4 linked regions of the Homo sapiens genome follow. The protein of the gene in region 2 interacts with the protein of the main gene of each other region in a pairwise test. Each region holds a gene or a part of one and is shown on either strand. Other genes may lie near its edges. The genes, in order: SLC35E3, LNPEP, CGRRF1 and UNC93A.

Evidence for each region.
Region 1: the proteins of LNPEP (region 2) and SLC35E3 interact in binary tests that used the Homo sapiens proteins (3 or more experiments, as listed by UniProt).
Region 3: the proteins of LNPEP (region 2) and CGRRF1 interact in binary tests that used the Homo sapiens proteins (3 or more experiments, as listed by UniProt).
Region 4: the proteins of LNPEP (region 2) and UNC93A interact in binary tests that used the Homo sapiens proteins (3 or more experiments, as listed by UniProt).

Annotation. Positions count from the first base shown.
Region 1 is NC_000012.12:68,755,513-68,763,362, reverse strand, and holds part of SLC35E3 (solute carrier family 35 member E3), read right to left. Parts: intron 4,207-7,850; coding exon 4,124-4,206; intron 3,324-4,123; coding exon of another isoform or gene 3,278-3,323; exon of another isoform or gene 2,972-3,277; intron 1-2,971. UniProt on the Homo sapiens protein: Putative transporter.
Region 2 is NC_000005.10:96,931,551-96,939,350, reverse strand, and holds the start of LNPEP (leucyl-cystinyl aminopeptidase), read right to left. Parts: upstream 3,272-7,800; 5' UTR 3,196-3,271; coding exon 3,177-3,195; intron 1-3,176. Other genes in the region: uncharacterized protein LOC124901030, read left to right, coding at 3,276-3,980. UniProt on the Homo sapiens protein: Release of an N-terminal amino acid, cleaves before cysteine, leucine as well as other amino acids. Degrades peptide hormones such as oxytocin, vasopressin and angiotensin III, and plays a role in maintaining homeostasis during pregnancy.
Region 3 is NC_000014.9:54,519,668-54,527,517, reverse strand, and holds part of CGRRF1 (cell growth regulator with RING finger domain protein 1), read right to left. Parts: intron 5,065-7,850; coding exon 4,925-5,064; intron 1-4,924. UniProt on the Homo sapiens protein: Able to inhibit growth in several cell lines.
Region 4 is NC_000006.12:167,286,603-167,294,978, reverse strand, and holds the start of UNC93A (protein unc-93 homolog A), read right to left. Parts: upstream 3,665-8,376; 5' UTR 3,490-3,664; coding exon 3,403-3,489; intron 463-3,402; coding exon 281-462; intron 1-280.

The sequences.
Region 1 (7,850 bases), on a different chromosome or scaffold from region 2:
ACTTATATTTAAATATAACTATTTTTTCTATATAAATGAGTACTCTCTTGTTCTTCAGATGTATGATGTTTGCCTATGTGCTTTTCCTAACTACAACACTAGAAACAGCCACCACTCTGTGCATTAGTTTCCTCACTATATAAAAGGGGTTTACCTCCCACGGTTATTGTAAGGATTAAATAAGTTAATATACACAAAGCTTCTAGCATATAGTAAGCACCATATGTGCTAGCTATAATAACATTACCAACAGCAGTACTTATGTATCATAAACACCTGCTTGGTGCTTGACACATTCTCTCAAATACAACCACCCAACATCATAGATCGTACTTCCTCCACTTCATACATTTCATAAGTGATCAGAGTGAGACCCTGAGAGTTCCCACACTAGTCAGGCCCACAGAGAGTGGCAGAGCTCAGTGTTCACACCTGGACCTGTCTGACCTCCAAGCCCACCTAAGCAGCCTGGAGGTTCCCGCTGGGCAGCAGCAGTGCCTCAGGAGAGCACAGGCTGCGTCACCAGGGGCATATGGTGGCTTGATCCCATGAAGGTGACTTCCTGAGACACAGAGGATCTTCCCAAGGTTGTTGGCAATAGTCATAATGTTTTATTTTCAATTATGAGCTATCTTCATGTGCACTGGCTCTAACACTTTAAATTTCTTTACTCCTCAGCTTCTCTTTTAAGTATATTTATACGAGAAGGAAGTCAAATTTAAAGAAACTATTTATGAATCCTTTTGTAAAAGCAACAACAAAAGAGCAGTCTACATGTGGTATTTCCAGTTCTGCACTTTACTCCAGGCAGGCTGTCACCCCAACCCCAACCCACTTTACTCCAGGCAGAATGTTCTGGTCAAACCCAGTGCCCTCCACCTCACTCAGTCCCTCAATGGTGACCAGTCTCCTTGAACTTGGCCTGCCAGCGGCATCTGACACAGACACCGACCCCGCCTCCTCCTCCTTCCTCTGGTTCTGTGCCAGTCTCCTCCTTCCTTCCACCTCTGACTGCTCCTTCTCATCCTCCACCTAGTTTCTCATCTCTCTGAATTCCAAATACTGGACTCAAACCCAACACTCAGTCTTTGGACTTATTTTCTTCTACTTGTCTGCTTGGTAATCTCAACTAGTCTCATCACTTTAAACCACAGCTTCATACTGCTCACTCCCTGTGATGCCTCCTGCTGAGACGTCACCTTTGAACCCTGACTTGTTTATCCAAAACTGAGCACCTGGCTGGGCACGGTGGCTCACACCTGTAATCCCAGCACTTTGGAAGGCTGAGGTGGGAAGAATGCTTGAGCCCAACAGTTTGAGGTTGCAGTGAACCATGATCGCGCCACTTCACTCCAGCCTGGGTGACAGAGCAAGACCCTGTCTCAAAAACAACAACAACAAAATACTCCCCGAACTGAGCACCTTATCTTCCTCCCCAGCCCCAAACCTCCTTCTGGGTATCCTATCTTAGTTGATGGCAACTCCATTCTACCAGGTGCTCAGGTCAAAAACCATGTAAATCAGCCTTGTTTTCTCTTTCTCCACATCCAACTCGGCAGCAAAACCTGTTGGCTCTTCTTAGAAATATTTCCAGAATCCAATCACTTCTTACTATATCCACTGCTATCATACTGGTAGCCACTATTACTTCTAAATTAGAATATCGTAGCAGTCTCCTGAGTTTCCTGTGCCTCTTTCAGTCCAGTAGTTCTCAACCATGGGTGATTCTGCTTTGTGGGCAATCTTTGGAGGCATTTTTGGTTGTCACAACTGGGCAAAGGGTATGTATGCTACTGGCATCTGGTGGTAGAGCCCAGGCCTGCTGAAAACATCCTACAGTGTACTAAACAGGCCTGCACTAAGAACCGTCTAGCCCAAAAAGTCAACAGCCCAGAGGTTGAGAAATCCTTCTTAAGTCTATTCTCAACACAGGAGTCCTGAGTGATTCTATGATTTATTTTATTTTAAAAAACTTTTTGTAGAGACAGGGTCTTACTATGTTGCCCAGACTGGTCTCGAACTCCTGGGCTCAAGGGATCCTCCTGTCTTGGCCTTCCAAAGTGTTGGAATGACAGGTGTGCCATTGTGCCCGGCCCACTGAGTGCTTCTATTAGAATGTATGTAAAATCATGTTACTTCTCTGCTCAAAATGCTAATGGCTTCCCATCTTACTCAGTTTAATAGTCCTTACATAAACGCCCTACTCAATTCAGTTCTGTGTTACTTCTCAGCCTACCACATTCCCTCCTTTGCTCAACCTGCTCTAACCACACAGGCTTCCTTGGTTTTTTTACGGCCTCGCACCTGCTGTTGCCTCTGCCTGGAATGTTCTTTCCTCCTGATCTGCATGGAGCAACTGCATTTCCTTCAGGTCTTTACTCAAATGTCGTCTTCCCACTGATGCCTTCCTGACTAGCCCTGCCTAGAACTTCAATGCTGTCTATGACATTTCACATTCTCTTCCCCGCTTTATTTTTACTCCTTGGCAGTTAACACTATCCAACACTGTATATAAATATTTAATTGTTTTCTATTTCTAGTCTTCCTCACCAGAATTCAAGCCTGTGAGAGCAAAGACTTTTGTCTATGTGGTTCATTACTGTATCCCCTGTGCCTGGCACACAGTAGATGTTCAGTATATAAATATTTTTATATCAATGACTGGTTTAGTGGGTATTCAATAAATACTTATTGAATAAATTAATGTTTTAAATCAGAGCACATATTTGGATGCCTTGATTGGGTAGTATGATGTACAAATTTGGGGACTAGACTGCATGGGTTCAAATCTGGACATCCCATTTGTCAGCTGTGTGCCTTAAGTGAGTTGGTTAACCTCTCTGTGCCTCTATTTTTTCTATAAACAAAAATGACAGACTTTACCTCACAGAGCTGCTGTGAGAATTAAATGGACTAATACATACAAAATGTTTCTAACAGTGTCTGACACAAAATAAATATTTGTTAAGTATTGGTTTTCTAAAAAACTTATCGTTGTTGTTTTTTATTGATAGTTGGCAAATATCCTACTTGTTTACTTCCTGGGGAAATTCATTTGTTGCATTTGCCTAAGGGTGGGGGCAGAGTGAAATGTGAAGAGAAACAGGATGACAAGCAGAATGGTACAAATGGACAGTTGAATTTGACCTTTAACATATAACTTCATTTCTATTTTTTCTTTTTTTGGTAGAGATAGGTTCTCCCTATGTTGCCCAGGCTGGTCTCGAACTCTTGGGCTCAAGCGATCCTCCTGCCTCGGCCTCCCACAGTGTTGGAATTACAGGCGTGAGCCATGGCACCCGGCCAATGACTTCATTTCTTGACTTGAAATAATATTGAGAAAAACAGGCACACCCATATCCAAATAAGTACAAACACATACTCCATAGCCAGATGCCAGTGGCCTGAAATTATCTTTTGTTATTTGTTAACCATTCCTCTACTTTGTTACTAGAAATACCTGAAAATTGTTTGAAAATCCAAACCTCCACCTCACTATTCATTCAAAAAATATTTAATCTCACTGTCTGTAAGAAATGGTACTCTGAGTTAATTTTTGTAAGGGAAAAGGTCACCTATTACATAAGAAAATTCAGAAACATTCATGACACAAAAAGCTAACCCACTTCCTCAGTTCATATTTCTTTTTTTTTTTTTTTAAGACAGAGTCTTGCTCTGTTGCCCAGGCTGGAGTACAGTGGCACAATCTCAGCTCACTGTAACCTCCGACTCCCCAGTTCAAGCAATTCTTGTGCCTCAGCCTCCTGAGTAGCTGGGATTACAGGCGTGCACCACCTTACCCAGCTAATTTATATATTTTTTGTAGAGACGGGGTTTCACCATGTTATCCAGGCTGGTCTTGAACTCCTGGCCTTAAGCGATTCACCCGCCTCGGCCTCCTGAAGTGTTGGGATTACAGGTGTGAGCCACCACACTTGCCCCTTCAGTTCATATTTCTTTAAAATCCTTTAGTGGGTAAAGATACAGTAAAAGGCTAAAAATAACTCTCTCTACTCAATTTAGGCCATGCAATAGTTAGTGTGAGATTCAAATAAGGTAATGAATGTAAAAGTTTTGGAAAATATAAAAGACGATGCATTTCTAAGTTATATGAAAAGGATACGTGACAGGTGAAGTGTTCCCAATGATCCAATAAATTGATAAGTTCACCATGAAAGCTATTACTCCAGATAGCAGCACCATAAGCTACAAATAAACCAAAAGAACCATTAATGCAAAGCACTGCAATCATAATCATCAAGCAAAGATACATTTCATTCGGCATTTTAAAAAATTCAAATATCAACCATTAATAAATAAGATTAGAAAGAGAGGGCCGGGCGCGGTGGCTCACGCCTGTAATCCCAGCACTTTGGGAGGCCAAGGCGGGCGGATCACGAGGTCAGGAGATCGAGACCATGGTGAAACCCCATCTCTACTAAAAATATAAAAAATTTGCTGGGCGCAGTGGCGGGCGCCTGTAGTCCCAGCTACTTGGGAGGCTGAGGCAGGAGAATGGCATGAACCTGGAAGGTGGAGCTTGCAGTGAGCCGAGATCACGCCACTGCACTCCAGCCTGGGCGACAGAGTAAGACTCCATCTCAAAAAAAAAAAAAAAAAAAAAAAAAAAAAAGAAAGAGAATTTGGGGTTGGGAGACAGTAAGAATTGCAAGTAAAAAAGCAGAATGAACCGTGTTTAGAAAAAACGTAATTTTTTCCACAAGAATCAACGAAAAATACTGCAATAACATCCTTTCTGTGATTGTGAATTTCCAGGTTCATTTTTCTTATTAATCTAAAGAAAAAGTATACATATGCATTATTATTATTGTACATCAGACAATAAAGAAAAGCAAAAAGAATATAAGGAATTCTTATAATCCCAACCACCCACACATTAACATCTCGGCATACCTCCTTCGAGATCTTTTTCTTTTTTTTTTGAGACGGAGTTTCACTCTGTCACCCAGGCTGGAGTGCAGTGGCACGATCTGGGCTCACTGCAACCTCCACCCTCCAGATTCAAATGATTCTCCTTCCTCATTCTCCTGAGTAGCTGGGACTACAGGCGCCTGCCACTGCGCCCGGCTAATTTTTTGTATTTTTAGTAGAGATGGGTTTCACCATCTTGGCCAGGCTGGTCTTGAACTCCTGACCTCATGATCCACCCACCTCGGCCTCCCAAAGTGCTGGGATTACAGGCGTGAGCCACTGCACCCGGCCGAGATCTTTTTCTATTAAATTGCTCATTTTTATTCTTTTTTTTTTTTTGAGATGGAGTCTCATTCTGTCGCCTAGTCTAGAGTGCAGTGGTGCAATCTTGACTCACTGCAACTTCTGCCTCCCAGGTTCAAGTGATTCTTCTGCCTCAGCCTCCCCAGTAGCTGGGATTACAGGCCCATGCCACCACACCCACCTAATTTTTTTTGAATTTTTTGGTAGAGATGGGGTTTCACCATGTTGGCCAGGCTGGTCTCGAACTCCTGACCTCAGGTGATCTGCACCCCTTGGCCTCCCAAAGTGCTGGGATTACAGGCCTGAGCCACTGCACCTGGCCTCATTTTTATTCTTATTTAACTCAATAAGCATTCATTGGATATCTACAAAGTTAGGCCAGGCCTTCTGAGGAACGCAGTATGTACAAAGTTCCTGCCCTCAAAGAGCTTAGAAACTACTTGAGGACATAATAAAAATCATGATGATCACTGCTTACACTTACATAACACTTATTATGCACCAATAATTGTTCTGTTTTACATGTATTCACTTATTTAATTTTCACATACATCCACAAAGTAGTTGTAAAAATATTATTCCTTTTTATAGATAACTTGGCTGGGCACAGGGGGACAAATGGGTTGGACCACTATATACACATACAAAGTTCTGTTCAAATCTATCCCATAATTTTATCCAAAAAGTTATAGAATCATTTTGTTTCTGAATTTAGATAAAATGATATTCATGATATAAACTATTAAGAAGTTTAAGTTCCAAAGAAAACTTAAACTTGATACTTGGCACATCATTAAAAACACAATTACTCTACTTTGTTAGGGTCTTTGTTACGGACTTTGAAGAATATAAAGAAGCTAGTTCCACGTTGAAGAGGAGTGGTAAGAGTGGGCATCCTTGTCTTGTTCCAGTTCTCAGAGGGAATGCTTTCAACTTTTCCCCATTCAGTATTATGTTGGCTGAGGGTCTGTCATAGACGGCTTTTATTAAATTAAGGTATGTCCTTTGTATGCCGATTTTGCCAAGGGTTTTAATCATAAAGCGATGCTGAATTTTGTCAAATGCTCTTTCTGCATCTATTGAGATGATCATGCCATTATTTATTTATTTATTTATTTGGAGTCTCACTCTGTCGCCCAGGCTGGAGTGCAGTGGCACGATCTCGGCTCACTGCAAGCTCCGCCTCGCGGGTTCACGCCATTCTCCCGCCTCAGCGTCCCAAGTAGCTGAGACTACAGGCACCAGCCACCACGCCCAGCTAATTTTGTTTTTGTATTTTTAGTAGAGACGGGGTTTCACCGTGTTAGCCAGGATGGTCTCGGCTAGTCTCAATCTCCTGACTTCGTGATCCGCCCGCCCTGACCTCCCAAATTGCTGGGATTACAGGGGTGAGCCACTGCGCCTGGCCGATCATGTGATTTTTGTTTTTAATTCTGTTTACATAGTGTATCACATTTATTGACTTTTGTATGTTAAACCATCCCCACATCCCTGGTATGAAACCCACTTGATCATGGTGGATTATCTTTTTGATACGTCATTAGATTCAGTTAGCTAGTATTTTGTTAGGGATTTTAGCATCTATGTTCATCAAGGATATTGGTCTTTAGTTTTCTTTTTTGGTTGTGTCCTTTCCTGGTTTTGGTATTAGGGTAATGCTGGCTTCATATGGAAAAAAAAAAAAAAAGTTGAGTTGACACAATCCTCTACTTTGAGTCAAGGATGCCTCCTAGGGACATTAAGGAATGAAGATGACTTTCCTTCACACTAAATGGCCTCAGCCTGCTGTGGTCTTGGTTTCTTTGCCTTTTTTTTTTTTTTTTTTTAATGGCTTTTCTGCTGCTGTCCTCATTTTAAAACCTGTTAGAAGGCTACGAAAAAAATCCTCTCTCCTTGTAGTATAAGGTCTCTAGGCTGCAATGGTTTGAAACCAGATAACCAGGATGGCTAGGACTTTTGCAAAGTGGAAATATTATCTGATAGATGGTCCAATGACCTCTACTTTAGAAAAAAAGTGTATATGGTAAAATATATAAATTTGAAATAACTACTGGTCTACTTAGGGGAAGCAGAGCGGAGCACTGGAGAACACAGACTTTGGACCCAGAAGGCATGTATCCAAATTGTGTTTCTGCTTATTAGCTGTGGGATTGCGAGCCAGTTACTAACTCTTTATCTCTCGGTTTCCTCATCAGTAAAAATAATAACAATGGTAATATAGTTTGGATGTTTGTTCCCTCCAAATCTCATGTTGAAATTTGATCACCAATGTTGGAAGTGAGGCCTAGTAGAAGGTGTTTGGGTTATGGGGCTGGATCCCTCATGAATGGCTTGGTGCCCTCCCCAGGGTAATGAGTGAGTTCTTGCTCTATTAGTTCTCATGAGAGCTAGCTGTTTAAAAGAGACTGGCATTTCCTCCCCTCTCTCTCTTGCTCCCTCTCTCGCCATGTGACATGCCTGCTCCCCCTTCACCTTCCACCATGACTGTAAGCTTCCTGAGGCCCTCACTAGAAGTAGATGCCAGCACTAATGCTTCTTGTACTGTCTGCAGAACCATAAGCCAAAATAAACCTCTTTTCTTTATAAATTAGTCTCAGGTATGCTTTTATAACATC
Region 2 (7,800 bases):
TCCCAGCTACTCGGGAGGCTGAGGCAGGAGGATCACTTGAACCCGGGAGGCAGAGGTTGCAGTGAGCTGAGATTGTGCCACTGCACTCCAGCCTGGGCAACAGAGTGAGACTGTGTCTCAAAAAAAAAAAAAAAGAAAGTATACATACTTTCTAGTATGTATTTCATATATAATCAGACCTCCTTAATCAGATTCTGAGGGTGAACCTTAGCATTTGCATTTCTTAAGATGAATTTAAGTTTTTACAAAATATACCAACCCTGCATGCAAATGAAGACAAAAATCTGGATAAACATCAAAGAATTATTTAATCTAATATCTCTAACCAAAAAAGCAGATAGTTGCCTTCAATTTTTTTTTTTTTTTGTAATATACAAATCACTATTACTTAACAGTTTTACCTCTACCTGCCTAATAAGACATAATCATTATTGCCAAAACAATCTTAAGTACTGGTCCAGCACATCTCTCTTCATAAAAAAAGCCACCAAAGATCCAAACCCAGACCAGATGTCCAGACTTCAACATAATAGCAATCCCTCCCAAGGACAAAGCCAAAAATAGATCCTGAGCTAAATGGGAATTCCTAGCACTAAGATCCATCCTTATAAGCCCTTTCCAGGGATATGCATTTTAAATGGGTTGCAGAAGTATGTTACCTGAACAGGTTAACATAGGATATTCATCAAATGAACCAATTATCAACAGGTAGAGAGCAGGGCCCAACAAAAATAGGTCATACCAGTGGCAACTTTGGACAGAAAACAGGGAAACTACAAAAAAAACGTACTGGAATAGATGAGTATTGAAGGCTAGAGTGACAAGATATAAGCTAAATTCACTTCCTTTACAAATGCATAGGTCAGTAGATGGAACCACTGACAAGATTTTAACTAAAAGATATGTGGTCCTAAATTACTGAAACTGTTTTTTGTTAAGCTCATACACCTCTCTACATATATAGGGATACATGAAAAAGTGTAAGTGGGAAAGATTCCATTAAAAGAGGATGAACGTGTAACAAAATCCAATACCAGGCTTGATAAATCTTGCAATCATAAATTCTATGGATAATGAAATACTCTGCATCATCACACCCAGACCAATGGGAGCATTATACATGCATTATTTTTTGTACTCAAAAGGATGAAGTATATAACTGTCTACTGTACCATGTCATTTGAAAACACTAGAAAATTCTACAGCAATCCTTCAAAAGTTTTCAAATAAATACCCTGTCCATCTTAAACCTGAAAAGCACTTCAAATTGCTAACATTTAATTTCTTATTGACTGTAGATATTGTCGTTTCTGTTTTCCTTGTAAAAGGATGCTAAATAAGGCTCCAAGGAGTGATTGCTACATTAACCAAAATTATGCACTGCCAAGCTGTCTCCAGCATCAACTCTGAAAGATAGGAAAGAATCAGAAATCCAATTTCCTACATGAAAGTTGAAGCATTGCTTCTTTTTTTGTTCTCTTCTGTGGGATTTTTCCATTGTCCTCCCAAATGTGACAGTTTGCAAATACCCACATCTAGAAGCAATCTAGAAGCATATTCTATAAGAGAAAAGACACCAATTTTAAAACTTGAGAAAGTACTTTAATTCTGTAGGCAAAGGTTCAGCAAATCAGCTAGCACTAATCTTGACCAAATGGGTGAGTCAGCCTCATCACAGAGATTTTTTTTTTAATTTAGATGAAATTTCACATTTAAAAACATGGTAACTCCAAGCATTCTTCCAAAAACAAAGAATGAACATTGGAATAGTCACTTACAAGGACTTAACGACTTGTATTAAACATATTTTACACTAAAGTACTAGATGGTCTCTAGTTCATTTTAGCTCAAACCTTCCTTAATTCTTCGAGTAACTTCACCAGACTATTCTTTAAGTCTTAGTAATTACAAATAGAACCTGAATGAGAAAGAAAATTCAGAATTAAAGTTGTTATCAGTAAGCCTAATTAAACAGTGCAGACAGAAAGATGGCAGTAGAATAAAGCATTCTACATTAGGAATAGGGAGAATATAATCAGTAGTTCACAGCCCCATGAATGAAGCACAGCATACAACAAAGTCTGGCTGGGATTTGGGATAAAGTGGACAATATCTGTCTGCTCTTGAGTGGTAACTAACAAACTAAACAGGGATATAGACTGTGGCCCCTATTAATGTGATACTGTACCTGAAGTAACCAACCACACTCAGCAAAACATGTCAACCAGAGACTGAATCCTCTTTTAGTGAGTCGTCTCCCTTACTGGCAGTTTTCCTACTTTCTATCTTAAAAGGGAATCCACACACTCAACACCGCAAAACGGTAAGACATCTCACCCCTATATTGTGGCTCTGGCACTTCTGGTCCGCACAAAAGCCATGGTTCTAACTAGGGTGGGATTTATGCTCCCCGTTCAGTGAAGGGCTGTGGCTGTTTGCAGGGTGCAGGCTCCCTGCGTTGACTCTCGCTTCCTGTCACACAGTGGTATCACCACCGTGACGGACCCTTGACATTAACAAGTCTTTGACTGAAAAACTGATGTGATCTGCAGCCAGTGAGGGGATGCGTGGTGGCCCTGCCGAGTACCTCGGCAGGGTCAGGAGGGTGGCACTGTGGCCAGGCACCTCCGCGGCACCGAGCGAGGTGAGCAAGCCTTTCCTGAAGTTTCCCTTCCTTCCACAACATTAACCTGCCAAGCCTCCCACCCCCACCCCGCCCTATTAGGAAAAGTCACGCCGGCAGCTCACTGAAGGGCAGGGGGACAGCTCCTGGCGCCCCACAAAAGTTGGGCTCGGCAGCTGCCACAACTTAACGCTCCTACAGGAGAGTCGGGCCGACACCGCCTCCTCCGGGGGCAAACCTGAGCTGCCAACTTTCCCACTGCCCACTCCTCTGCGCACAGCAGCCCAAACTTTGCTGTTTGCCCACCGGCCGCACCCCGGGCGAGCGGCGGCGGCGCTGACCTTCAAGCCAGCCCCGGGTCCCGCACTGGCCGCCGCCCGCCCCCCGAACCTCCCTGCCTCCCCCAGATCCCCTCTCCCTGCCTCCCTCAGCCCTCGTGGGAAGCCCGCGGTGTTGGGGGAGACGGCTGCAGCCCGACCCCGCGTGTCACGACTGCCCACGACCCTCAGGGCTCCGGAGAGCCCGGGTCCCGGCGCCTCGGCAGCCCACTCACCATTGGTGAAGGGCTCCATTTTCCCCCCGCCGCGGCTCCTTACAGCCGGAGCGCCCGAGCTTCCTACTCCGAGAGCTGAGGCGGCCCAGCTGACTGAGCATGCCCAGCGCGGCCTCCAAGGGCTGCCAGGGAGGTGCCGCGAGGGGCGGCGCCGCTCCGCCGTTCCGGGTTTTCGTGGCAGCTGCAGAAAGAGCGAGGGAAGCAAGAGGGAAAAGCACAGTCAAACCCCCTGCTGCTCCGTGGACAGGCGAGGTGGGAGCGGGTTCGCGCTGGGGGCGGGGCCTAGGCGGGGCCGGGAAAGCCCAGCCCCTACCTGAAGTGGACCCGGCTGCGGCGCTCTCCCCGGCCGGGAACGGTGTTCAGTCACTCAACAAATGTGGAGCCCTACTGCGACCCGCCCGATCCCGGACGCCGAGACACCCGCACTGCGCCAGAAAATCATGGTCCCAGTCCCAGGAGCGGACATTCCAGAAACAGACCATAAATAAACACAGAAGACACACGAGTGTAAAGTCAGTGCCCCGCTGCGAATTAAATCGGGGTGATGTGATGGCGAGTGAGTGGGTAGTTAATTCGGATGGCTTGGTTAGACGAGGCCTCGCTGAGCAGGTGCCACTGAAGCCGAAGTCTGAAGGCAGAGCAGGAACCTGCGGGCGAAGGTCGCTATCTGAACCGCGAATCGCTGGTTTCCCTGGGGAGGTTGGCCGCGGAGGGATCACTGCTCGAAGGACCGAGGGAGCGGGCGCTGTAGGTGTTTTCGGCAGAGATGCCCGCCCGCATCAGAGTGCCTCAGGAGGGCGGTGAGGAGGAGACGGAAGAGAGGGCGGGGACCTCGCAGGGCCGAGGGCGCCCTGGGGTCCAGTCCCGGGGCTGGCGGCTGCCTTGCGGCCTCTAGGTGCGGGCGGATAACAAAACCCGGCGCCGGATCGCCCGGCCCGGGTCGCGGGCGCCGCAGGATGTGGGCAGAAGGCCCGCCTGTTCCGAGCCTTAAATCAACACCTGCGGTTCCCGGGGGTGCTACCACTGGGGCCCGCAGCAAGGCTCCGCGGCGCTAGGCCCGAGAAACCGAAACTCCCCTAGTCGCCCCTGCCCCCCAGCACTCGCGCCATTGCCTCCAGCCCCGAGCCACCATTGTTTCCAGTGCCAAATCGGGCAGCCCCGCTAGCCTCCGAGGCCGAACCGCCAGGGGCCCCATAAGCCCCGAGGAGGCTCGTCGGGAACCGCTTCCTTATCCTCTCGGTATGCGCATCGCCACCACCCTCGCTGCAGAGGCCGCCGCCCTCCCAGCGCGCCATCACCGCCTCCTCTGCCTCTTCCCCTCCCTCAGCCCCGGCCCCTGCATTGACTTGGCTCGGGCTGCGCCTCACTGCGCCTGCCAACTGTCACACGCTCTGAGGCTTTCAACAGCGGGGCGCCAGGGACAAACAAGCCGCGGCAAGCGCAAACAGCCTGCTCAAACAGGGACGGCCAGGGTGTTGTTTGACCAGCACTGGAATTGGAAACTAGGTTTCGAAGAAGTCAAATCGAAGTACAATATTGTATTTTAAACTGCCTGTTGTTATTACATCCCTCACAACGCACGCTCTACTTGAAACTTCCAGTGGATACCAACTGCACTTAGAATAAAAAATGAAACTCCTTGCCTAACTCTGGGACCTCATCAGCACATACTCACCATATTTTGGTAACAAAGGCCTTCATGCTGTTCCCGGAAGTCGCCAAGTTCCATCCATCATTGTTAATAATTCCTTTTGCTCGCTCCTCGCACAAGAACTGTTTCTTCTGCTTAGTGCTTTGCCTACTGATTCCATCTTGTCATTTAAGTCTCGGCTCAAATGTCACCTCTGCAAAGAACCCTTGTCTGACCATACATCTAAAATAGCCACAAACACTCTATAAAGACTTGGCCTTGCTTTATTTCCTTCTCAGCACTCATCACTGTCTGAAACAATGTTTTGGATTTGTTGCTTATTATCAGTCTCCCTTCTCAAGAATGCAAGCTTTGTGAGGGCAGAGTCGTAATCTTTTTTAAGGCTGTATCCCCAATGCCTGGGTAAGTATACAATAAATAATTTTTGCATGAATAAGTGAAGGACATAGTGGTGTTTAGAGTTCACTTCCACTGCTGCAAACCCTTCCAGTTAATGACTCCATACTGAATGATGTGTTTGATCAGTACAGAGAAGGTGTCTGTATCATATGATACCTCAGAGCTGCTATCTCCCTAATGTGTGAAAGGTAATCAGAACCGTTAGGCTGGCCCCTAGTACTGACATTTTAGAACCAAAAATAGTGAACCACAGGAGCTGATGTATCCCAGTTCAGATATTATATAGTACACGCAGAGCTAGATTTTGTTAACATACTTCACACATTGTATTGCTTAAATAAGACGCTCTTCTCTATATTTTAGGTCATGTCATGTTCCCTTGAAGTTCCTTTTGCAACCAAACCACTTAGTATAGGAGATATTTAAAACACTGCAGCTTGTTAAATCACCTCACCTCACTTCACCTGTAACCTACAGTCTATCATGCTTTTAAGTGTGAAACATGTTACCTTGTGTTTTGTTTTACATATCCCAACTCTGCAGAGACGTGATAAAAAAAAATGCACTAGCGAATATAGGTGGATCATTATGTCTTTTTGAGATTTCTTTGACAAAGAGACAAATGATTTCTTTGCCAACCTCTTGCCTCCCACCCCTCCCATTCCTTCACACACACAAAGACATGAAGGACCATTTAAAGACATGTAAAAATACAAAAAATAAAATTAGCCGGGAGTGGTGGCACACACCTGTAATCCCAGCTATTCCGGAGGGTGAGGCATGAGAAGCTGAGGCATGAGAATCACTTGAACCCGGGAGGCGGAGGTTGTGATGAACCAAGATCACACCACTGCACTCCAGCCTGGGCGACAGAGCAAGACTCCATCTCAAAAAAAAAAAAAAAAAAAAAAAAGACGTGGTTTTGTATAAGAAGTAAAAATAGTAAACAAACGAAATGTTTCAGAAGCCTACCTAGGAGCAAAAGAATAATAATGAAGTTTGTTTTGTTTCAACGGATACTGTTTTACATTTGACTTCATAGAGCCTTTTTGAGGGAATATGATATCACAATTTCACAACCAAAACCCATTATGTTTTTATCTTTAACACCCGCCTATCCTCCCACACAGAACTTCCTCTTTAGTTTAAGAATATGACAGTTTAAGTTATTATGAAGTTACGATTCATTATCAAAGGAGATAATGTGACATTATCTACTATACCCATCTACTGTCTTCGGAATCATTGCTCTCTACCATTTAACACTTGAAAACCATTAATTTGGAGAGTTAATTATAATACATAATAAATAGCATGACAGGAAAAAAATATAAGCACCCTGAAAAACAAATTGCATTTGTTTAAAGAACTGACAAACTTGATAATCAATGAATATAGGGATATTTTTATCAAAATAAAACACTTGGTATTCCATAGATCAGCAAATCCAAGCCTCACATTGAAACAGATAAGGAGGGAACTACTGTCTAGAGAGGGTAGAATATTTACGCACAATCCACGAGCAGACATGGACTGGAACTCAGGCCATCTGTGTTCTAAACCAGTGCTTCAGAGTTTTCTGTTGTCTCCCAGTTTCCACAAGCAAATTGGGGTCAATGACAAAAATCCACGAAAAGAATATGGAATAGAGAGAAATATAGCTAATTTCATCTATTAGAAGTCTATTCCATTAATCATTTAATTAAGATTCCAACTTAATTAGTTGATATTCCATAGGGAATTTGGATTCAGCCCTGCTAAGTGATCTTTCTAATTATTTTGAAATAAGCAACAATACATTAATTCATTGAACACATTTGAAAATGTTATTTGTTCAGCACTCGAATAAATGGAGGAAGCTGCTTCCCGCCAGGGCAAGGCTGACCATCATGAGGTTTCCGGCCACCCTAAGGACCGAAGGAGTCAATATCTCATTGCCTTTGTAACCCATTTGTAGCATACATACACTGCATTAATTAGTAATGTTTGAAGTTGTATCAAATCAAGAAATGTTTAGAGCACAGAAGAAAGCAGAATAATTATCTAATAAAGTTCAAGTAGAGCTTAGGCATTAGCAAAAAAACGCAGCCAAATAAAGTGAAAGGTTATTATTTGGAAAGAACAGTGATATACTAGTTCAGATTCCTTGGGCTACAAAAGACAAAACTCTGAGTAAAACTAGTTTAAATGATACAGACATTTATCATTTCATATAACAAGTCCACTGATAAGATAATCTTCAATCACAGCTCACCAGCCTCATCAAGAGCCCAACTTCTCTCTCTCCACTCTTCAGTCCTCTATATGAGCAATTCCCCAAAGCCCAGACTACCATATGGTCAAAAGTTGGCTGCAGCAGGGGAGGAAGAAGGAACTTACTCTTCCGTGTCTCTTTCTTGAGAGCAGGGGAAACCCTTCTCAGAAATTCCCCATTAGAATTCTCCTTAGGTCTCATTTACCAAAACTATATTTTGTACATTTGTAGACCAATCACTGGAAATGAAAATGAGGTTATAATTGAGACAGAGTAGAAATGGGGCTTAGCTTCACCTCACCCCTACTAGAGCATTCTTT
Region 3 (7,850 bases), on a different chromosome or scaffold from region 2:
ACTACAGAATCTATAAAATTATACTCTCCATAATCTCTTTTTTTAATGTTATTATTATTATACTTTAAGTTTTAGGGTACATGTGCACAATGTGCAGGTTTGCTACATATGTATACATGTGCCATGTTGGTGTCCTGCACCCATTAACTCGTCATTTAGCATTAGGTATATCTCTATAATCTTTTACAAACTTGTCCATTACATAAACTGAGGGGAGAATGTAATGATTTCCACTATCTGAAGACAGTGTCAGTACCCCCATCAAAACTATTCTCCCTTTACCTTTTCCACTTTTTTTTTTGCAAAGAGTTTCAATTTTTATGTATTTTTTTGCCTTCTAAAACTCAGTACACACATGACATCACTTTAGATCAATAGCATTAACAGAATTGGGACGTAGCTGTAAGAAAATTCAGAATCAAAATAAGTGAAGCACATGGGTGTGGTATCTCTCAAACTGTCCTTACCCAGACTATCTATAACAAGCAAATAAAGCGGAGTGTAAGAGACAGCCTTGCAAAAAAGTGAAAAAAATAAGGACTGTAGAAAATATGCTAAGCCACTAAAAAGGGAGAAATGATGGGGCGGAAAAGCCACAAACCTTCTTGAGGAAGGATCCCTGTGAGAGAAGCAGTAATAAAACAAGGAGACCATTCATGAGGATAATAAAGCCAGAGTATTGGGAGATGAAAGTTTTAGGTTGTAGAGAATGGAGGTTCACAAACGCCTCCAAACATGCCATGTACATTGTGTTTTTTTCTAACCCTTTTGCTTTAATGTTAGCTCTTACCAGAGTGAATAAGCTAAAATATAAGGAAGCTATTTACAAAAAGCAGAATTCCTGAATCAAATTAATTCAACTCAACTTATATACACTGAGTATCTAACTTTCAATTTCATTAAAGACTCTATATTGGAGACATGGAAACGCAAATCCAAATATATCATTACATAATAACAACAACAAAAAAATCCCAGCAACCCACCCCTAGTAAACAGAACTAAATGACTCAGATTAAAATCGATTCTCTGGTTTTCTTTTTTTTTTAATTATAAATTTTAAAATATGGCCAGGGCGCAGTGGCTCACACTTGTAATCCCAGCACTTTGGGAGGCCGAGGTGGGCAGATCATGAGGTCAAGAGATTGAGACCATCCTGGATAACACGGTGAAACCCTGTCTCTACTAAAAATACAAAAAATTAGCTGGGCATGGTGGCATGCACCTGTAGTCCCTGCTACTCAGGAGGCTAAGGGAGGAGAATTGCTTGAACCTGGGAGGCAGACGTTGCAGTGAGCCAAGATTGCACCACTGCACTCTAGCCTGGGCGACAGAGCGAGACTCCGTCTCAAAAAAAAAAAAAAAAAAAAAAATCTTAAATATAAATAAAAAGCATGTGTGTTTTTTTGTTTTTGTTTTTTGAGACAGGGTCTCACTCTGTTGCCCAGGCTGGAGTGCAGTGGCATGATCTCAGCTCACTGCAGCCTCAACCTCCCAGACTTAAGCAATCCTCCAGCCTAAGCCTCCTGAGTAGCCGGCACTAACAGGCATGTGCCACCACGCCCAGCTAATTTTTGTATTTTTAGTAGAGATGAGGTTTCGCCATGTTGGCCAGGCTGGTCTTGAACTCCTGGACTCAAGGATCCGCCCGTCTCAGCCTCCCAGAGTACTGGGATTACAAGCATGAGCCACCACGTGCAGCCTCTGGTTTATTTTCAAGTTAAATCAGGTCTCTAGATTATTCACCCTCTTCTGCTATATGTCAGGCAGTTTGGGTACAGTGGTGAAAAAAAGATTTTTAAACTATCTACACATCAAATGAAATAACTTTTTTAAATGTCACAAATATTGTTACAATATTATTTTAATGTTCTGTATAGACATCTTTAATGATACCCACTTTTCCACAGTTTAAACAAATGAATTTTACTCTGTTGAGTATAACTCCTATCAAAATCCTTCTATTTCCCCATAGGAGAAAGATAATAAATGATATGCATCGGTATTTTAAAAATTAAAATATTTCAGTATTCATGCTGTACATCCACACATTTAAATAATTTTTCATGACTTCAGTAATACTACTGTTGGTTAGCAACTAGTGTGCAGGCATAGCTAAGAGGGCTACTTACTGGCTATCTTTTCATTTGCCTCAAACATTCGCAAGGCTGGTTCTATTTGTGACTATTTCTGCCTGAAAAGCAGATTGATGGATTTCCTCACACTTTCTGCCTCACAAGTGCCCTGTGTTTTGCTCACAATGTATCAGCTCTTCTTAGTTTTTCAGTGTATTTTCAGACCTGTGGAACTGTACTGCAGGAAGGAAGGCCTTGCAGCTGGTAGGTTTTTCATTGCGGGTCCTGCTCAAGAGCCAGATGTGACATTGTAGCAGGTTCTAGCCTATGGCCACAGAGGTGGGAGGTTATTGAACCACCACTATGCTGTACACTTGATTTTTTATTTTATTTTTTGAGACAGAGTCTCACTCTGTCACCCAGGCTGAAGTGAAGTGGTGTGATCACGGCTTACTGCAACCTCGACCTCCTGGACTCAAGCAATCCTCCCACCTCATCCTCCCGAGTAGCTGGTAGCTGGGTGTACACTTTAATCAGGCATGCACAACCTACTATCTTTTAAACAAATTAGTTTTATCTGTGTCATATCTCAAAATTTGGTTTTCTCAAGTAAAAAATATCAGAATGAACTGTTATCTATTATAGGGAAGGAGCGGGGAGGGGAGTGGCCGAGATCCTAGTTTCCATCAATTCATAGGGTAATAGTATTTACAGCTAAAGAGGATGAATAAGAAATTTTGTACTTTTTGGGGCCAAGAACAGTGGGTCACGCCTGTAATCCCAGCACTTTGTGAGCCTGGGGCAGAAGGACTGCTTGAGGCCAGAAGTTTGAGACCAGCCTGGGCAACACAGCAAGACCCCATCTCCACAAAAAACATTTTTTTTTTTATTTAGCCAGGCACGGTCATGCACACCTGTAGTCCCAGCTACTCAGGGGGCTGAGGCAGGAGGACCACTTGAGCCCAGGGTATTGGGGCTGCAGTGAGGTATGATCATACTACTGCATTCCAGCCTGGGTGGAAGAGCAAGAGCCTGTCTCGAAAAAAAAAAAAAAAAACATATATTTTTCCTTACAAATCAAGATTTACTTAAGCCTGATGATCTATTTGACTAAGTAAACTGATTTCTGACCAGTTATTAGATTCTGAGAGTTAGAGGCAGGAAAGATGAATAGACAAGAATGGTCCATAGACGCAAGGGAGCAGGACGTTGCAAATGAAGGTCAACTCTGTAAAATACTAGAGAGAGAGCATTAACTCAGCCCTGAAAGGCTCCCACTGGATTTGATGACTGCTGGGGGTCAAAAGTGCAGGGCAGAAGTCGTAATTAGTGACCTCAGAGAAAGCCATTTCAGTAAAGGGATACAGGGAAAAGTCAGACTGCACTGCACTGAGGAGTAAAAATGAAGCAGGCTAAGAGAAGGAAAATGCAAACAGCTTCTAAGAAGCTGGCTGTGAGGGGAAGAAGAGAAATACGGCAGTAGCTAGACTAGGATGAAAAGCAGAGAAAGATCTGGCTTATTTGTTTTCAAGAAACCAGAAATGTAAGCAAGTATAGAAGGGACAGGGTCTCGGCCCAGAAAAAAAGCTACAGAACTGTATCTAGGACTGCCTACTCTTTATTTCTATTGAACTGTCACGAAAGAATTTCAAAGTCCAAAAGTTCAAAATTGAATTCATTGCCTTTCTTTGGAAACTTGCTATTCTTTCTGTACTCCTCATTTTTCTAACAGGATCTGGCTATGGAGGACCCATAGGAAGAACCTGAGTCTTCTTAGACTCCTCTGTTACCTGTCCCATCCTATGCTTTAGCCATAACTACTGTTTCTTTAATGTATCACTCCATTTCTCATCCACGAAGTAAACACCTATCTTCCAAGATTCTACTCAAAAAAAAAAAAGGAGGAAGGAATAAAGAAAAAAAAAGTAAGAGAGACTCAGCATATTCTTTTTTATGAAGGCTTTCCTGAATATGCCTCTTCACCTTAACAAATTTAAGCATCTCTTTCTTTACAATTCTAATGGTTCCTATATGGTCCTGCAGACAACTTATTTTTCCAAGCAAGTACAAAAGCAAACAACTGCCATCTATTACCTACCATCTACAAAAGAACATGTTATATCAAAATAATTTATACCAAAATACCATAGTTTCAGATTAAATGACAATCATTCTGGCCGCGCGCAGTGGCTCACACCTGTAATCCCAGCACTTTGGGAGGCTGAGGTGGGTGGATCATCTGAGGTCAGGAGTTTGAGACCAGCCTGGTCAACATGGTGAAACACTGTCTCTACTAAAAAAACAAAAATTAGCCAGGTGTGGTGGTGCATGCCTGTAATCTCAGTGACTTGGGAGGCTGAGGCAGGAGAATCGCTTGAACCCGGGAGGTGGAGGCTGTAGTGAGCCGAGATTGTGCCATTGCACTCCAGCCTGGATGACAGAGTAAGAATCTGTCTCAAAAAAAATAAAAAGGCAATTGTTCCTCAAAAGGTTAGCAACCTTACGTTAACTGTATTTAGACATAACACATCATTTCTCACTTTACTACAGACCAATAAAAATGGCATAGTGTCCTAAGAGACTTCACTATTAACACCTGTAATACTTCATTCTACTCCTTTGTATACACATCTACCTCTGTTTACTAGGTGATAAATTCTTCAGGAGTAAAGTTTGTAACTTCTTAATCTTTGTATCTGTCATATACAGTACAGCACCTGGAACAACATAGTTGCCCAACAAATGTTTGTTAAAAGTCTAATGAAGGGAAAGAAATAGAGAAAGAAAATAAAAGGGCTAAAAAAAGAGGGCAAACAATGAGAGAAAATCTTTGGAAAACAGCCACCAACTTGTAATTGAAGCTGAAGATGGATTAGTGATCTCTAAGCCAAAAGGATTCTTGACTTGTCTCATTTGCTTTTTGAAAACTCTTGTGCTGAACTGGGTCTCTTCTGAATTTCTCAGAATTACTGGAACATCCCAACCAAACCTAAAAAAAGGTAAAAAATAAAATATTATTTTAACAAATGTTGAAACTTTATGTTATGTGTAAAATCTGTTGTGCTTCATTAGCGATTCCTTTTAGCATTAAGTGTCAGAAAGAGGTTAAATTTCTCAATTTACGTTATTTTAGAGATCCCACAGAACTGCAAAACAGTTGGCCCTCTGTATGAACCAAGTGCACATCAAAAATATTTGGGGACGAGGGGGAAGAATAAAAAATAACAATAAAAAATACTACAAATTCAAAACCAATACAGTATAACAACTGTTTACACAGCATTTACATTAGGTGTAAGTAATCTAGAGATAATTTGAAGTGTACAGAAGGACGTGTGTAGGTTATATGCAAATACTATGTAATGTTATATAAGGGACTTAAGCATCCTAGAATATGGGGGGTGGGTATCCTAGAATCAATCCCCCTCAGATATCAAGGAAGGACTAGGTATTGTTCAGCTGGCTGAATCAACACATTCTTGAAAACAAAGAGTTCTATTGTTAATACTGTTGATAACACCAAAGGAGTATGGAGATTATAGATAAATTATACTTAATTTAACAGCAAACACATGATGAACTTATTGAATTTTTTTAAATGTGAAAAAGAAATATATATTCAAGAGGCAGACTATTGGCCGGGTGTGGTGGCTCATGCCTGTAATCCCAGCACTTTGGGAGGCCAAGGTGGGAGGATCACTTGAGGTCAGGAGTTCGAGACCAGCCTGGCCAAAACATAGTGAAACCCTGTCATTAATAAAAATACAAAAATTAGCTGGGCATGGTGGCGTGGACCTGTAGACCCAGCTACTTGGGAAGCTGAGGCAGGAGACTGGCTTGAACCCGGAAGGCAGAGGTTGCAGTGAGCCGAGATCGTGCCACTGGACTCCAGCCTGGGCAACAGAGCAAGATTTCGTCTCTCAAAAGAAAAAAGAGGCAGACTAATATGATTTATGGGACAACGGAACTTTTTTTTTTTTTGAGATGGAGTTTCATTCTTGTTGCCCAGGCTGGAGTGCAATGGCGTGATCTTGGCTCACTATAACCTCTGCCTCCCGGGTTAAAGCAATTCTCCTGCCTCAGCCTCCCAAGTAGCTGAGATTACAGGCATGTGCCACCATGCCCAGGTAATTTTTGTATTTTTAGTAGAGACGGGGTTTCACCATATTGACCAGGCTGGTCTCGAACTCCTGACCTTAGGTGATCCGCCCACCTCAGCCTCCCAAAGTGCTGGGATTACAGGCGTGAGCCACCATACCCAGCCAGGACAATGGAACTTTTAAAACACCAACTATAGCTCTTCATTTATATATCTTCTACTTTTAAATTTCATGTAAAAATGTAAACTCTGACAATGCCCATGGAACAGAATTAAAAGGAAAATGAAAGGGGCTAAATTCAATTCCCAATAAAATTAAAAAACAGCTACTTTACTCAATTTACATAAAATAATCTAAAATTAATACACACCAGTTAAACTAGGAAATTTTAGTTAAAGACGGCACAGTTAGGAGCCTATTTGATGCACTCCCTTCTCTCCAAATACATATCAGTGATAGATAAAAAAGAAAAAGAAAAATTAAAAAGACCCCACAGATACCTGAGTCCCATATGCTTTAAGAAAAAAGAAAGACTCCGCTGAAATGAGTAAACAAACTGTGGTATATTTAAAGAAAAGAATAGAAGTATTCAGCAGTGAAAAGGAACAACTTATTACTACAATCAAATGGATAAATTTCAGAAACATCGTGCTATGCAAAAGAAGCCTTACACAAAAGAATAAATGCTGTATCCTTCTCTAATATAAAATTCTAGAGCAGGCACAACAAATTTATGGTAGAAATAAAAATGAGAACAATGGTTGCTTCCGGAAGTACAGGAGTAGGACTGACTGGGAAAGAGCATAAGAAAATTGACGGTAACGTTCAGTATCTTGACAGAGGCTTAAGCTGTATAGATGATGTGTTTGATAACACTTGGTAAATGGTACACTTAAGATTTGTACATCTTGGCCGGGTGCGGTGGCTCACACCTGTAATCCCAGCACTTTGGGAGGCCGAGGCGGATGGATCATGAGGCCAGGAGATCGAGACCGTCCTGATTAACACAGTGAAATCCCGTCTCTACTAAAAATACACACACACACACATACACACACACACACAAATTAGCCAGGCGTGGTGGTGGGCGCCTGCAGTCCCAGCTACTCGGGAGGCTGAAGCAGGAGAATGGCGTGAACCTGGGAGTCTGAGCTTGCAGTGAGCCAAGATCGCGCCATTGCACTCCAGCCTGAGCGACAGAGCAAGACTCCATCTCAAAAAAAATAAATAAATAAAAAATAAGATTTGTGTATCTTATATGTAAATGTTACTTCAAAAAACTATAAACGAAAACAAACACTGAACTCTAATCAGTAATATGTAATGTTTTAGAACTTACAGGTGAAGAGTACAACTCACTTTGAAGGGCATCGTGAAATAAGATAGACCAATGTATGGATAAAAGAGTGGATTAATGTGGACAGATATGTAATAGAGAAATTACAGTAAAATGCTGATTGTAGAATCTAAGTGATGGGCAGATGTGTGTTCACTGTGTAATTCTTTCTAGTATTCTGTATGTTTGAAAATTTTTATAATAAAATGCTGGGAACAAATACCTTTATGGATCCAAAAAAAGCAAAGAAACAAAGTAATGAGTAAGGCTATGCCATGGTTTCATGGTTCTCAGTCTGGCAGCAGACAGTGGCAACCAAGCCTTCATGTACTAAGGAGA
Region 4 (8,376 bases), on a different chromosome or scaffold from region 2:
GCTGAGGACCAGGACGGATCCCAGGGAGAGGCCAGCATCGGGGATCGGGAGGAGGAGACAGAAGCAGTGGGGGGCACAGAGGAGCCTTGGTGGGAAAACAGGAAGGAAGCCCAGCACCGTCTGTCACCAAAGCGAGGCGGGGGTGCAGGGGCAGGAGAGCTCATTTTAAAATGCCTGCAGTGAACAGTAATCAGGTGCAAATGCAACTCATGTGCAGAGTGAACGTCCCTAGCGTGGGGAACGGCCGGGGTGGGGTGGGCAGGGGGTGGTGGCTGCGTACCAGCTGGCGAAGAAGTTGCCCACGGAGAAGGCCACGTAGCCACACATGGAGAGGATGATGGTCCCCTTGCAGCCCAGCCTCTCGATGAGGAGCGGTGGGAGGAACATGGAGGACAGGAGCATGCCTCCATAGAGGGTGCTGAGCGCTGTGACACCCAGGCCCTCCTCGCTGTACAGGCTGCTCTGTGGGAACAAAGCCAGCCCTGTCAGAGCACAGGATGGACACAGCGGGATGAGGCACCAGCAGGTCCTCAGTGTCCCCCAGGCTGGAGGCCGCCACAGCTCCCAGGAACCGCCAGCCACAGGCTTGCTGCCCTGGGAGCCTCCTCTGAAGCTGGTGGGAGAAAAGTGCAGGTGAATTCGGAATAAAGCAGTTAGTGTGTCTAAACATCAGGGAGTGAAGGCCCGGCACCCCTGTGAGTGCTTGCGCCGGGGCTGGATGGCTGTGAGAGCCGCTCACGCCTCTGTGGACACCTGCCTGAATCTCAGCTGAGAACAGGACAGTGTGACAGGATGGGGCTGGAGACTCTGCCAGAACTCATCTGTGAGGAGCCTGCGTGCTCCCAGGGAATGTAAGGGGTCCTTCAGCCCATGGGGAGGCCCGAAGGATATGAAGCAGCTGAGTGCACATGAATGATTTCTTCCTTCACCAAATATCCATCGCCCGCCTCCGAGTGCCCGTCACTGTCTAAGGTTTGAGAATGGACCAGGGACGTGGCCCTCGTATCCTGGAAACTGCAGGCCGCCACCACTGGTGGAGACAACCCGGGCAGGCACACACCGCCACGAGGGTGCTGGGTGCCCCATCCAGACCTCAGCTCCAGGGCAGGGTGGGGAGAAGGAGGTGACCTCCAAGTTGAGAGCTGAATGAGAACTTGGAGGCCTGCAGCCAGAAAGGGTGAAAGGAGGTGGTGGCTACAGGGGGAGGTGCCACAAAAGAGCGTCCTTTGTCCTTGGACGAGGGGACCTAGTCCAGACCAGGGTGAGGACTCAGGAGAACTCTCTGGAATGAGGCCCTGTCTTCTCACTGGGGCTGCTGAGCTCTGAGGAGGGAGCCTGGGGATGCATGTGCCTTGTTGGGGCCTGAGAGCGAAGCCAACCCCATAGTAGCCTTGGGGTTCTTGGAGAGAGGTGGGCTCGGCTCCTCAGCATGCTGGGGCAAAACCAATCCTGAGTCACTTCTATCTGAACACTCTGTGTTGCCCATGCCAGTCCTGAGTAGCAGAGACAGCTGTCCCAGTTAGAGGGTTAAAGCACGTCCGCATGCTCAAGGTCAGCTGCCGACAATAGGCCCGGGTGGGGCCTCGAACCAGGGTGGAGCTGGAGTGGAGGGGACCCTTCCACAGTCCTGGGGCCCTGCAGAGAGGGAGGTCTGGCTCCCCTGCATCTCCAGTCTTTTGAGAAGGAAGGGCTGACATCATGAGACAGCAGCTCCCACTTCCACCAGCCCAGGAGGAGTGGGAAGTGCTGGCGGGGCGTGGGACAATCTACTCCCCAGGCAGCTGCTCACAGCTGCGGAGCTCATCCAGATGCCACCATGAGTGATTCCCCAATGAGGCACCCCCAAACTGGGGCTGAAGAGGCAAAGGGTTGTCTGCCCGCATTTGCCCACAGCCTTGGGTCCTGCCGTCACAGCCTGAGAGGAGGGACCCCTGGCAGCTCCCAGCCCCCTCCAGCCCCCTTCCTCTGGCTTCCAAGTCCAGAGGCCAATTTTCAGACAGTGGCTGAGCCACAGCGGATCCACCAGAACTGGTTCCTAGGAATGCTGACCCCAGGGGAGCTGTCGGTTCCTAGGAATGCTGACCCCAGGGGAGCTGCTGTGCCAGGAGGACAGCAGGGTCTCCTTCTGCAGGCAGGTGAGCTTTCTAAAGAGAAAGGGCTACTGACCAGTCCACATCCTTGAGACTCCCTCCTTCCAGAAAGTGCACACCAACCACATTCAACATGCACTCACCTCAACCCAACAGGCATTTCACTCACACCAGCATTCTGTGACAACAACACAAAGTTCTGGGCAAAGCAGGGACTCCAAAAGTAATGAACCATTGCGGCAAGAAAAGAGACTGTGTTCCCTTCCACTTGACTTTGAGAGTCACTGTTGGCTGCCATTTTATCCTCTGTAAGCCTGATCAGAAATAGAACCAGATAGGAGTTCAGCAAAAGGAAACATTACTTGAGAATTCAGGACTGAATTCCAGCTTCCTTGGCAACCCAGGAGTCCCAAGTGTTTGCACAACAACAGTGAGAGGAGAAACCTCGGATTCTGAGTTCCCAGGTGTGCTTTTCTGGTTCCATACTATGCACACAGTAGGTGCCCAATTCTTATTCTTCATTGACGAACCATGTAAGACCACACTAATTTGTCATCAGAAGCTCTGAAATGTTTTATGTGACCACACCAGGCCACAGGGTACAACACTGTGGCAATGAATAAGCCGGGGGAGTAACAATAGCCCTGCTTCCTGACCAGCCCTTGGAATTCCCTGGAATTCAGACTGGAATCCAGGTAAAGATCAGACTTGAAATGTAACCAGCTTGGGAAAATGTGTCAGGTCTATGTCTAGGTGCACATGATGAATGCTGCAGCCTTTCGGAGAATGCCGTTTGGCTTTTTCATGGGCTCACGGAACTATGGAGGAGAGCATGCCATAAGGAGTTCAAAGTATAGAGAGATCATGTTGTCAAAGTTCACAGTTTAGCTTAGAGTAGGCTTGGAATGTATAAGGTCTAGTGACATTTGATAAATTCACATGGCTGCCCCTAACCACAAAGCCAAGGGCATCCAATCAATCATAGAATTCACAATGACTTTTCCTGTGTCTCCTTTTAACCACCCAAAGGCAAAGAATGTCCCAACAAATCACAGTCCCAAGACCCCTGCTGTCCTTGTCCAAGAGCAACGTGCACCTCGCTGTTGTGCAATCCTATTGAGACGTGAGTGGGAACTGCTCACTGTAGGACTGCATCTGAGAACCACTGTTTGTTTTAGAGGATTTGGTACAGAGTGAAAAAGAAACACCAGGTGAATTAGATTTTTCAAATTTCCAATTCATTATTGTCTGTGACCACAGGGATTCTTGGAGGCCAAGAAGTTCAGGTAATTTGATGACCGGACACACATACCTGCAGGCTCTGCAGACCTCCATAGGCTGTAAAGAGAAGCAGGAACCCAAAGGAAACCACAAGGACGTTCCTTAGACTTCTGTCCATTGTGCTGGATGAAAAGATCAATCACCAGTGAACACGTAAATTTGTAGCTCCCTAAAAGAAACCAATTGAGGCATGGGAAAAACAATCAGTACCAAGAAGTCCCATTCTCTCTCTCATCTGAGCTAGAGGTGAAATGTTAGAGGTGTGTTAGTCATTAAGACTGTCACTCGTTAATGAACTTGGTTATCACTGACCCCATGAAGCATACGGGAGCTCTGTTACTCATTTACCTTCTCTGTGATCCACAATGTCCACTTTGTATGGGGCAAAAGATCATTACTCTTACCAGCTTCTAGTTAATTGCGCTTTTTTCCTATTAAATTCTAATAGACATGGTCCAGATGGTAAAGTGATATGTTTCACTTTTTATGTGTATATAGAATAGAACCTTCCACAGTAAGAGAAACTGTCAGAAGTTGTCAGTGGTGCAGAATGAGGACTTCAGTCTTAAAGAACAAAGCATAAATGTCAACTTCAAGACACATAGTTCAACTTCTGAAAAAGAGCTAACGTGATTGTAAGATCCTGGGGCCAAAGTCTTAGTATTGCAAAGACTGTACAGTTTCACAACACAGTACAGCAATTATTAAAAGAAAAAACAACTTACATGAGTATAGTACTTTACAATATGCAAAGAATTTCATGCATTATTTCATGTTACCAACAATAGTGCTATGCTAATGATCATTAGAAATCTTAGACCCATTATAAGACAGGAAACAGCTTCAGAAAAGTTAAATGATTTGGTATTTTGGTCTGGGGCAGTGTTGTCCAGTATGGTAGCCACTCGCCACATGTGACTATTGAGTTCTGAAATGTGGCAAGTGCAACTGATAAAATGAGTTCACAACTGCATCTCCTTTTAGTTAATTACAATTAAAATTTAACCACATGTGGCTAGAGACAACTGTATTAGACGGGGTAAGTCTGGAGCTTTAAGCAACTTACCACAAATGTCATAGCTAATAAGCAAGAAAAATTATTTTTATTCAATTATAAGTAAAACTTGATGTCTGCAGATTGTTTCCAAAGTTCTGTGAAGTCAGCCATTTCTGTCTAGATTAGATCTATAAGGCAAATCTCGCAGGTAAGTCTAGCATCCTGGCAACACTACTCAGGGAAGCTTGCCAGACCATCAGAAGATCAGGGCCAATGATAAATGGGGTAAAGTTCTTGTCACTTAATGTATTTCAGTGAAAATGAAAGTTTTATGAAAACAATAGCTTTTTATATTAACTAAACATGGACTATCATGCTTACATAGACATAAGAGCCACGCAGTCTAGCAAAGGGATTCTGAGCATGGAAACAGATGAGCTCCACGGGTTCACACCCTAATCCTGTAATTTGTTAGCTAGGTGATCTCAGGTGGGTCACTGAGTCACCGAACCTGTTTCCTCTTTAAAAAGGAGGGTTGCAAAAGTTCAAGACTTGGATAATTTTGAAAGCCCCTAGAACAGCACCCGATATATAGCAAAAATGTTAACTTCAAGATACATATATGGTTCAACTTCACCAATAAATGTTATCACCAATAAATGTTAATTGACTAAGATGATATTTTGACTTTCAGAGACAATACAAATTAGAATAATATGTAAAGAAATTAGCATAATGTGGACTTCTTCATACTAACCGTGTTATCGATCAATCAACTTGGACCTTATTTTTATTTTTTGGCAACACTTTAGTTTACTTCAGTTCTGGCCTCTCATTAGTTCCCATGGATGACCTGTATTTTGATATTAGAGGACCTTCCTGATGTTTTATTGCACTGTCTGCTGGTCTTTCTCCCTTGGTTGCTTCAACTCACCAGCCCCATCCTCTAGGACTCGCTCTCTGGCTCTGGGGGCTGTTTCCAGAGGCTGCTCTTCCCCTCCCCTTCACCAGCCTATGCCTTCTAAGGAGCTTCCCTTTGTGCACAAATAAACCTGGTCTGTTTCCATCCTTCCCAGCCACACCCTCCCTGTCCCTCCAGCACTTCTACTAGGATTGAATTTCTGAAACCATGGCTTCAGTTACGTCTGCTTTTTCTCTCTTTTCCTCCCAGTTCCTCCCCTTTATCTATGTTAAAAGGGATTTTTTTTAAATGAACAGTATATTTCACTCTCTGCCTTTTCTCTGTAGCAGAATAAAATGCTTCTCTTAGAGGAGATAATTCCCAGCACCCCTCAGTGTTCCTGTGACCAGGGCAGGTCTTAGACATGGTCCCCCAGTGGTCTCGTCATAAACAAAGGGACACTCTTATCTTACCCGACCCCTGAGGCTGCCTTCCCGCAGCCTACACATTCCTGCAGACATGGAGTTGCCTGAGGGAAGAGAGTGCAACCTCTAGAAACCCAGAGCTGGCTTGGCTCTCAGAGCTGGTTTTGGCGTTATGAGCTCTGTGTGTGCACTGGAGCCATGGCCTGGCCCAGGGCTGACCTGCCAAAGGCCAAAGACGGGTACGTGTAAAGGATTTAAAAGGTGTCAATAGCCACTTCAGTCCTTAAAATTAACATCTGGGCTCTATCAGCTTGAGAAAAGAGGTGGTTCTGTAGATCTGCTCGAATCTGCAGGTCACTCATTGGACGTTAAAATGACAGATGCCCTGGGTGATACAAAGCTCAGAGCACGCGTGTTCCGGAAAACCGAGACTTCACCAGCCACTAGATGGCACCGTTTTGCTACGGCTGAGTTCACCACAGGCGCCATGCGTTCTTCATGCTGTAGAATCACCTTGTAAATCACCAAACTTCCTGCCAAGAATCTAAAGATTAATTTAAGGGAAGTCTACCCAATGGTTTGCTTTTTTAAGGAATGTACTCATGTAAGCAAATTAATATCAATTTTCTTGACATTTACATCTGAAATCTTTGTTAATAAAAGCAATACCAAATAAACTCAAATGTATCTTACATCTTTTTATCCACATAAAGATGAAGAAGGTATCTATAGGGAGTAGAATGAGTTCTTGGCTACTTTAGGGAATTTCACACTTTGGAAATAAATGTACTCATGCTGTGTGTGTGTGTGTGTGTGTGTGTGTGTGTGTGTGTGTAAGGAAGAACAATTTGTGCTAACACAACCATGGCTTGAGAGAGTATTTTCTCTTAGCAAATGTTCCAAAGCATCTTAAATCTTGGCGGGGGCTGACCACTCCGCCTTCCCCTGGCTAGACAGGCCACCTCCTGAGCTGAGCGGGCATTCGGGGCTCTGGCTTCTTCCTCGGCCAAGGAGAACCCAGAGAGCCAATCAGAGAAAAAGCTTTGGGGCCAGTTGGCTATGTCAGGCCCTCAGCCAAGACCCTTAGCTAATTTCCATTACTTATCAGAGAGGGCAGAGACCCATCGTGTGGCAAGCCTGGCTGGAAATACTCCCATCCTCACACCATTTGTGAATCCTCCCAGCTTCCACGGTGTGGTTAAAGCTGCTGGTGATGTCCTGGGATTCTGGGTCTTTCTCTCAGCCCACGTCTCCACCTGGGACATGTGAGTGGCCTGACCACCCAGCCAAGACCGTCAAGGGCCTGCAGGGTCCCTGAACAACAGCATCTGATTGGGCTAAGGCACCCTCATTTTGCACCAGAATGAAGGAGAGCAGCAGCTCTGTGATTGATCACCGTCTTCCACTCTCCCTGTCAGGGCGGCAACGCTAGGTGAGCCCGAGTGCGGAGAATCTGGCCTGTTCCACTCTCATAGTCAGGGGGATCGTGTAGGTCCTGGTTCAGAACACACTCATGTGCACAGTGCACACACACACACACACGCATGCACACACGCATGCACACACACACATATGCACACACATGCACACACACACACACCCTTTTTATTTTCCAAGTTCGTAGGTCCTTTTCCTTTCCCATGAGCCCTCTGCAGCCTGGGATACAGCACCCACTTCTACAGTCGTCCACACTATTTATTGAGCGTCTACCCTGGGCCAGGCATCCTTCCTAATGTACTGGGGTACCACACTGATAAAAGGGCCAGGGGTCTCCATTCTCACAGAAGCCTAGTTCTAGTGGAGGAACCAAACAGTGAACAACTAAGCAAAATAGAGAACTGAAATTCCCATGGAGAGAAGAAGTGCGATCCCAAAACTAGAGCAGGTGGGACGATAGGGAGTATGGGGTGGTACACACGCTATCCACACCCCATCTCCACACGGGCGGCAGAGCAGTGTCCAGCTTTGGAGAGAGCAGCTCGGCTGGACCCAAGCATCACCAGGTCTGCAGCTCAGCAGCCGTTTCTATGAACCCTGCAAACTGGAGCAAGTGGCACTTTGGGTGGAAAAGATCCAGCTGAGTGCAGCGAGCAGTGGAGGAAGCCGGGCTGTGATTGGACAGCTGAGGGCCAAGTATGGCTATGATTGGACAGCTGAGAGCCAAATACGGCTGTGATTGGATAGCCGAGGAAGCCGGGCTGTGATTGTACAGCCGAGAGCCAACCACTTACATGTCTTCTAAGCCTGGATGAGGGGCAGAAAGTGCTGATTATGCTGGAATTTTTTTTTTTTTTTTTTTTTTTTTTTGAGACAGAGTCTTGCTCTGTCGCCCAGGCTGGAGTGCAGTGGCGCGATCTTGGCTCACTGCAACATCCGCCTCCCGGGTTCAAGCAATTCTCCTGCCTCAGCCTCCCGAGTAGCTGGGATTACAGGCACCCGCCACCACACCCAGCTAATTTTTTGTATTTCAGTAGAGACGGGGTTTCACCGTGTTGCCCAGGCTGGTCACGAACTCTTGAGCTCAGGCAATCCGCCCGCCTCGGCCTCCCAAAGTGCTGGGATTAAAGACTTGAGCCACAGCACCCGGCTGATGCTTGAATTTTCTAGGTATTTTTTCTATCAATTATTTTTGTCTATACAGACAAAGATACAGTGATGGGAAATTACGCCCAAAAATCTCCA